Homo sapiens: one gene and its partner. The protein of the gene in region 2 purifies or fractionates together with the protein of the main gene of each other region. This does not show direct contact. Each region holds a gene or a part of one and is shown on either strand. Other genes may lie near its edges. The genes, in order: PPFIA1 and CYP4X1.

Evidence for each region.
Region 1: the proteins of CYP4X1 (region 2) and PPFIA1 purify together in Homo sapiens (affinity purification with mass spectrometry; 3 studies listed by BioGRID and IntAct, with this or other methods). This does not show direct contact.

Annotation. Positions count from the first base shown.
Region 1 is NC_000011.10:70,277,169-70,280,989, reverse strand, and holds part of PPFIA1 (liprin-alpha-1), read right to left. Parts: intron 2,376-3,821; exon of another isoform or gene 1,587-2,375; intron 1-1,586. UniProt on the Homo sapiens protein: May regulate the disassembly of focal adhesions. May localize receptor-like tyrosine phosphatases type 2A at specific sites on the plasma membrane, possibly regulating their interaction with the extracellular environment and their association with substrates.
Region 2 is NC_000001.11:47,026,594-47,030,414, forward strand, and holds part of CYP4X1 (cytochrome P450 4X1), read left to right. Parts: intron 1-3,396; coding exon 3,397-3,538; intron 3,539-3,821. UniProt on the Homo sapiens protein: A cytochrome P450 monooxygenase that selectively catalyzes the epoxidation of the last double bond of the arachidonoyl moiety of anandamide, potentially modulating endocannabinoid signaling.

The DNA of each region.
Region 1 (3,821 bases), on a different chromosome or scaffold from region 2:
GAACTGAAAATTATAACTGAAATTAAGAACTCAATCTATGGGCTAAACAGCAGATTGGACACAAATGAAGAGGGGATGAGTGAGGTGGAAGATGGGTCAGTAAAAAAAATCTGGACTTTAGATTTTGGGCACAATAGCTCACACCTGTAATCCCAGTGCTTTGACATGTCAAGGTAGGAGGCTCACTTGAGGTCAGGAGTTTAAGAACAGCTTGGGCAAAATAGCAAGACCCTGCCTCTACAAAAAATTTAAAAATTAGCTGGGCACAGTGGCACATACCTATAGTCCCAGCTACTCAGAAGGCTGAGGCAGAAGGATTGCTTGAGCCCTGGAGTTTGAGGCTGCAGTGAACAGTGATCACGCGCGCCACTGCACTGCAGCCTCGGCAACAACAGGGTGCCTGTCTTTTTCTTTTTCCCCGAGACGGAGTTTCGCTCTTGCCACCCAGGCTGGAGTGCAATGGCGTGATCTTGGCTCACTGCAACCTCCGTCTCCCAGGTTCAAGTGAGTCTCCTGCCTCAGCCTCCCAAGTAGCTGGGATTACAGGCATGTGCCACCATGCCCGGCTATTTTTTGTATTTTTAGTAGAGACAGGGTTTCACCATGTTGGCCAGGCTGGTCTCGAACTCCTGACTTCAAGTGATTCACCCACCTTGGCCTCCCAAAGTGCTGGGATTACAGGCGTGAGCCACTGCACCCAGCCACCTGTCTCTTAAAAATTTTTATATACATATATATTTATATATATATATGTATGTACGTATATATATATACACACATATATACACACATGCTAGCTCATGCCTGTAATCCCAACACTTTCGGAGACTGAGGCAAGTGGATCACTTAAGTCCAGGAGTTTGAGACCAGTCTGTGCAACATGGCAAAACCCCACCTCCACTGAAAATACAGAAATTAGCCAGGTGTGGTGGCACGCACCTGTAGTCCCTGCTACTCAGGAGCTGAGGTGGGAGGATCGCTTGAGCCCAGAAGGCAGATGCTGCAGTGAGCTGAGACTGCACCACTACACTACAGCCTGGGCAACAGAGCGAGACCCTGTCCCAAAAATATACACACACACACATCCCCCACACACACACAGGCCGGACACGGTGGCTCACGCCTGTAGTCCCAACAGTTTAGGAGGCCAAGGCAGGAAGACTGCTTGAGCCCAAGAGTTCAAGACCACCCTGGGCAACAGAGAGACCCAGTCTCTAAAAACTAAATACACACACACACACACACACACACACACACACACACACACCTAGACACATACACAGAAAAGGTCTAGAAAATACGGAAAGGAGCACAAGAGACACATAGGACATGATAAAAGCCTAATGTATATCACACCATTGCACTCCAACTTGGGCAACAATAGCGAAACTCCATCTCAAAAAAAAAAAAAATGCCTAATGTACACAAAAATGGAGGCCCTCTGAGTGAAGATGAGTGGAAAATAGGAATATTTATAGAGAGAAGAGCCAAAACTTCCAAAATTGATTAGGAACCAGGCCACCAATACAACAAATACCAAGTTTTGCTAATGCCTGAAGCAAAGAAAATGTTACAAGCCACCAGAGGCAGCTTCAAATCCTGGTGTGAGGAATGAGTAGATGGTGAGATCTTGCTGTGTGTCTGATTAGTCCTTTCTCTGCCTTGCCTGTTTGAGCTTCAGCAGAATTGAAAATGGCTGGCAGTAAGGCTGGGAAGGACTCCAGAAAGGCCAACAAAGGCAGCTTCCCACTCACAAGAGAGCCAATTTGCAGTTCCTGGTGGGCCGTATTCACTGACACCTGAAATCTAGGACAATCAGTCCTGGACGTGTGGGCGCGACTGCCGCTGTGAATAGCACAGCCATCCTGGAGTACCTCACCGCAGAGGTACTTGAACTGGCAAGAAATGCGTCAAAAGACTTCACAGTAAAGCATACTACCCCTCATTACTTGCAACTTGCCATTCGTGGAGATAAAGAATTGGGCTCTCTCTTCAAGTCTACAATTGCTGGTAAAGGTGTCATTCCACACATCCACAAATCTCTAATTGGGAAGAAAGGACAACAGCAGACTGTCTAAAGGCTGCCTGGATTCCTTATTATCTCAGGACCCTAAACACTCTACCAGCTGTCCAGTGTGGCTGATTCCAGTGAACTATATCTCTGTGAAAAACACAATTCTGCCTTTCTGTAATTCTACTTGAGCAAGTTGGAAGTTTAATTAGCTTTCCAACCAACAAATTTCTACATTCAAGTCTTAACCATATTTGTTACTGTGGCTTCAAAGAAGCTATTGATTCTGAAGTAGTGGGTTTTGATTGAGTTGACTGTTTTCAAAAAACTGTTTGGATTTTAATTGTGATGGAGAGTTATAGTAACAAACATTTGGTTTTGCACAAACATTATTTCCACTCTGGTGGATAAACTCAGTAAAAGTCATATCCTCTCCAAAAAATAAAAATAAAAAGCAACCAGAGGGGAAAATAAAAAGAAGTATTACTTCAAATGGGACAACAATAACACCAAAAGCTGACTTGTCAAGAAAAAGGAAGCGAGCTAAAAAAACAATGAATTCGCTGCTACAAAATGGTGCAAGGAAATGACCACGATCCCAGTATTCTATACCCAGCAAAATCATCCTTCAAAACTGAAGGCAAATTGGGCACAGTGGCTCACACCTGTAATCCCAGCAGTTTGGGAGGCTGAGGCAGGCAGCTGCTTGAGCCAATGAGTTTGACCCCAGCCTGGCAAACATGGTGAAACATCACATTTAAAAAAAAAAAGGCCAGGCATGGTGGCTCACGCCTGTAATCCCAGCACTTTGGGAGGCTGACGAGGGCAGATCACCAGGTCAACAGATAGAGACCATCCTGGCCAACATGGTGAAACACCTTCTCTACTAAAAATACAAAAATTAGCTGGGCGTGGTGGCACGTGCTTGTAGTTCCAGCTACTCGGGCGGCTGAGGCAGGAGAATTGCTTGAACCCGGGAGGCGGTGGTTGCAGTGAGCCAAGATCACATCACTGCACTCCAGACCGGCGACAGAGCGAGACTCCATCTTAAAAAACAAAACAAAACAAAACAAAACAAAAACTAAAGGCAAAATAGAAAATTTTCAGGCAAACAAAAATGACAATTCATTATCCACAGATATGAACTCAAAGAAATACCGTAGAAAGTTCTTCAGGGAAAAGAAATATAGGCTGGGCGCAGTGGCTCACATCTGTAATCCCAGCACTTTGGAGGCTGAAGCAGGCAGATCACTTGAGGTCAGGAGCTTGAGACCAGCCTGGCCAACATGGTGAAACCCAGTCTCTACTAAAAATACAACAATTAGCCGGATGTGGTGGCATATGCCTATAGTCCCAGCTACTCAGAAGGCTGAGGCAAGAAAATCGCTCAAACATGGGAGATGGAGGTTGCAGTGCGCCAAGATCGTGCCACTGCACTTCAGCCTGGGCAACAGAGCGAGACTCTGTCTCAAAAAAGAAAAAAAGAAAAAAAAAAAACAAGAAATATAATCCCCGGCAGAAACATGAAACAACAATAAAGAATGAAGAGCAACAAAAATGGTAACTAAGAGGATAAATCTAAATAAACATTAACTGTACAAAATAATTATGATACTGCAAAAGTATATCTAAAATTAAAGTACATAAACTTGTAAGATGCAGCTAAAAGCGTGTAGTGGCTCACGCCTGGATCCCATTGTTTTGGGAGGCTAAGGGGGGAGGATCACCTGAGGCCAGGAGTTGAAGACCAGCTGGGGCAATACAGCAAGACGCTGTCTCTATTTTTAAAAATAAATATAAATTAAACTGA
Region 2 (3,821 bases):
TTGGGATTGCACTGAATCTGTAGATCAGTTTGGGGATTATTGCCATCTTAAGAATATTAGGTCTTCTGATCCATGAACACAGAAAGCCTTTCCGTTTAGTTAGGTCATCTTTAATTTTTTTTGTTGTTTTTTTTTGTTTTTTGAGACAGAGTCCTGCTCTGTCGCCCAGGCTGGAGTGCAGTGACGCAATCTCGGCTCACTGCAACCTCCGCCTCTCGGATTCAAGCGATTCTCCTGCCTCAGCCTCCCAAGCAGCTGGGACTACAGGCACATGCCACCACACCAACTAATTTTTGTATTTTCAGTAGAGACGGGGTTTCACCATATTGGCCAGGCTAGTCTCGAACTCCTGACCTCGTGATCCACCCGCCTCACCCTCCCAAAGTGCTGGGATTACAGGCGTGAGCCACCACTCCCGGCTTTCTTTAATTTTTTTTAACGATGTTTTTGTATTTTTCAAAGTATACATCTTGCATTTCTTTTGTTAAATTTATTTGTTTTGTTCTTTTTAATTTCATTTCAGACTATTTATTGCATTCATAGTGTTTTAGAGTCCACATTCCCTCTTGACTGTCACTAAGTTTTTTTTTTTCTGTTTTTGAGAGGTTTCTATCAGAATTTTGCAGATCAGAGATGACGGACATGTCAAACTGTCTAATATTACCAACCCTCCCCATTTATCAGATCAGGATCCTTTTGGTGATTCACCATGCAGGGAAATCTAGTATCTAAGGCTCAAAAGGTGATACTGTTTTACATAGGCAGTAACATTTTATTGCTACATAATAACTACATATTTATGGAGTACCTGTGATATTTTGATACGTGCATACAATGTGCAGTGATCAAATCAGGGTGTTTAGGGTATTCATCACTTCTAACATTTATTATTTATTTGTGTTTGGAACATTTCAAGTCTCTTCAAGCTCTTCAGAAATATTCAATACATTATTGTTAACAGTGCTATTGAACACTGGAACTTATTCCTTCTATCTAAAGACAGTAACATTTTAAGTATAGTCATAAGGTTACAGAAGGATAAAGTGTGTATAGGGAAAATTCCCTACAAGATAAGAATTTCATTCCTTACTCTTAGTAATACAGGTCTTCAAACATGCCAAGGATATTCCTCCCTTGGAGCTTTGAACATGCACGTCTGTGGTTATATTGCTCTCCCTGCAAATTATTCCTAAAAGAGGCTTGCCCTGACCATTCAGACTAAAATAGCACCTCTAGTACTCTCTATCTCCAACCCTATTATTATTATCTTGGCCCTTATCACTCTCTGACACTATACTGTATACTCTTTTGCTTGTTCATTTATTATCCACCACTAACTACAATATAAAATCTGTGAGAGGTAGGATCTTTGTTTGCCACTATAAACCTAGTGCATGGTACAGTTCCTGGTGCATAATAGGTGCTCAATAAATCCTTTGTTGAATGCATAAATATATTAGGTGCTGAGAAAATTTATTTATTCAAAGATCAATTTACTGCATAGAATAGGCCAGGTGGTTTGACATTTATTCAATAGCCAACATATGGGACCTAGGATGTACATATGCAAGTGTGTGTGTGTATGTGTGTGTGCATCTGCATGTGTACTTGGATGTACTGCAGAGAACATCTATGTAGCTAAGTAGTATAAAGCACTTGGGCTCCAGAGTTAAACTGGAGTTTGAATCCTCATTAGTGGTTGCCAGCTGTACACACTTGGGCAGATCATTTAACCTAGTCTGTAGGGCTCAATTTCCTCATCTCTAAAGTAGGGATTGTAATCATATCTACTTCATAGGGTTCTTGATGTAAATATTAAATAACATAGAACATGGAAAGCATTTAGCAGCACCTAGTTCATAGCAGTGCTTGATAAATGTTCGCTGTTGCTATTTGGGGGCACTATGCATTTTCTGAACATTTCTGAACAATGTTTACTAAATATATGTAGTACCCGTTTTCAAGTGTATTTAGATGCTTCTCTGGGGATGAAGAAATATAAATTAAATATAGTACAGTATTCACAACAGTTTTCTGTCCTTTTTGTCTAGTCAGGAGTTACAAAAAGTATAATGAAATACTTTCATATGGCTGGGGTGTTTATGAAAATTTTTTACCTAAACAAACAATTGTCATATTAGTTTACAATATTCATGAGGGCAAAGGCCTTGTCTTCCTTATATTTCTCTGTATCTCTACCACCTGGTACGTGTGATAGACAATAAATACTTGTGTGTTTATTGTTTGTAAATGAATAAATGAAAAAATATTCACATTGTTGAAAACCACTACTCTGGATAGTCAGTGGGTGCTTATCACTGGCTTGATTATGGCAACATTAACAAAAAAGTGCAGTATTTTAGAAACTAGGTTTCAAGACTCTCAACCTTTCAGTGGCCTTGAACTATCCAGAGAACACTTTATGGGTTAAAATTGCTAAATGATAACAGAGAAAAATGGGAGCCAGAGTTGTCCACCTCTCCAGAGGATGAGAGCAAACAATCCTGCAGCAGATACCGTGTGATTGGTCACACGAGGAAAAATCTGGCAGCCTTAAGATTACTTTGCAGCGGGGGACTCCCACCATCATGCTCAAGTGTGTAGATGGGCACACCAAAACACACACATGCAGGTGCCCTCCACTTTACACAAGAAGCAAATGTAAATGAATCTTGTTTTCAGTGATTTAGAGAAACAATTTAAGTGAGCCATTACTCATCTGCTTCTAAAAGCAAAAACTCCTTCTCTGGTGGTAGTATTTGCACTCTCATTTGTAAATGTTGGAAGCTGAAAGTTTTGTATTTGAGTTTGCTTTAAGATTCACACATCTGTGTAAATGGACCTTCTGTTGTTGGGGGGAGAATTTGGATTTTCTTTATAGATAGAGTTGGCAATTTTTTAGAGAGAAGCATTTACTGCTAAGTCATGAGAAATAATCACTGGTGCATAATTAGAGAGAGGAACAGGAAGAAGAAATGGTGAGCTGGATGTAGGGTCATGCCCCATTTAGTAACTGTTAGTTTCCCACATAGGAAATACTTCTTTTTAGCTTCCAGATCCCACTCCAATCTGAGTGTGTGATGTTGGCAAGTGAGGCAGAGAGTGTGACTCGGCTCACCCTCTATTGGGACAAGAGTTCACAGTAAATGTCATTCAACAGTGACTTGGTCTGGGGGTACAGGATATATTAATATTGAGAAGATAAATACACTAACTTTGTTTAGAGAATTATCCCCCAAGCTTAGAAGTCCCAAAGAAAGCATGTTATGTCACTTCCAGAAAAGTCTCAGGCTCCTCTGCTTGTGTGACCTTATCAGGTCCTGAACTCAGCTTGTGTCTATAAGAGGGGACAGGTCCAGCTTGGCTGGCTAATTACTTTTACTTTTTTCACTGCAGTTTATTCAGGATGATAACATGGAGAAGCTTGAGGAAATTATTGAAAAATACCCTCGTGCCTTCCCTTTCTGGATTGGGCCCTTTCAGGCATTTTTCTGTATCTATGACCCAGACTATGCAAAGACACTTCTGAGCAGAACAGGTAAGAAGAGGGGGAAAGCTCTGGGACCTATTCCTCCTAGAAGTGAAATGCATAAAACCCATAGGCAAGATTCCAAAGCAAAGATTGGTTTGGGGCCTTTAAGAGACACAGCAGCAAGTATGGGGAGGTGACAGGTTTCCTACCAATACTGAAGGGGATTCCCATATCCTCCCCAGTCCCTTGTCTTGTTCAGGTATGCATGGGCACGTTGAAGTCGGTATAACTTAAAGCCTAGCTGGCATTACCAGACTTGCCAGGCAAGGCTTCCCTTGGCCTCTGTGGG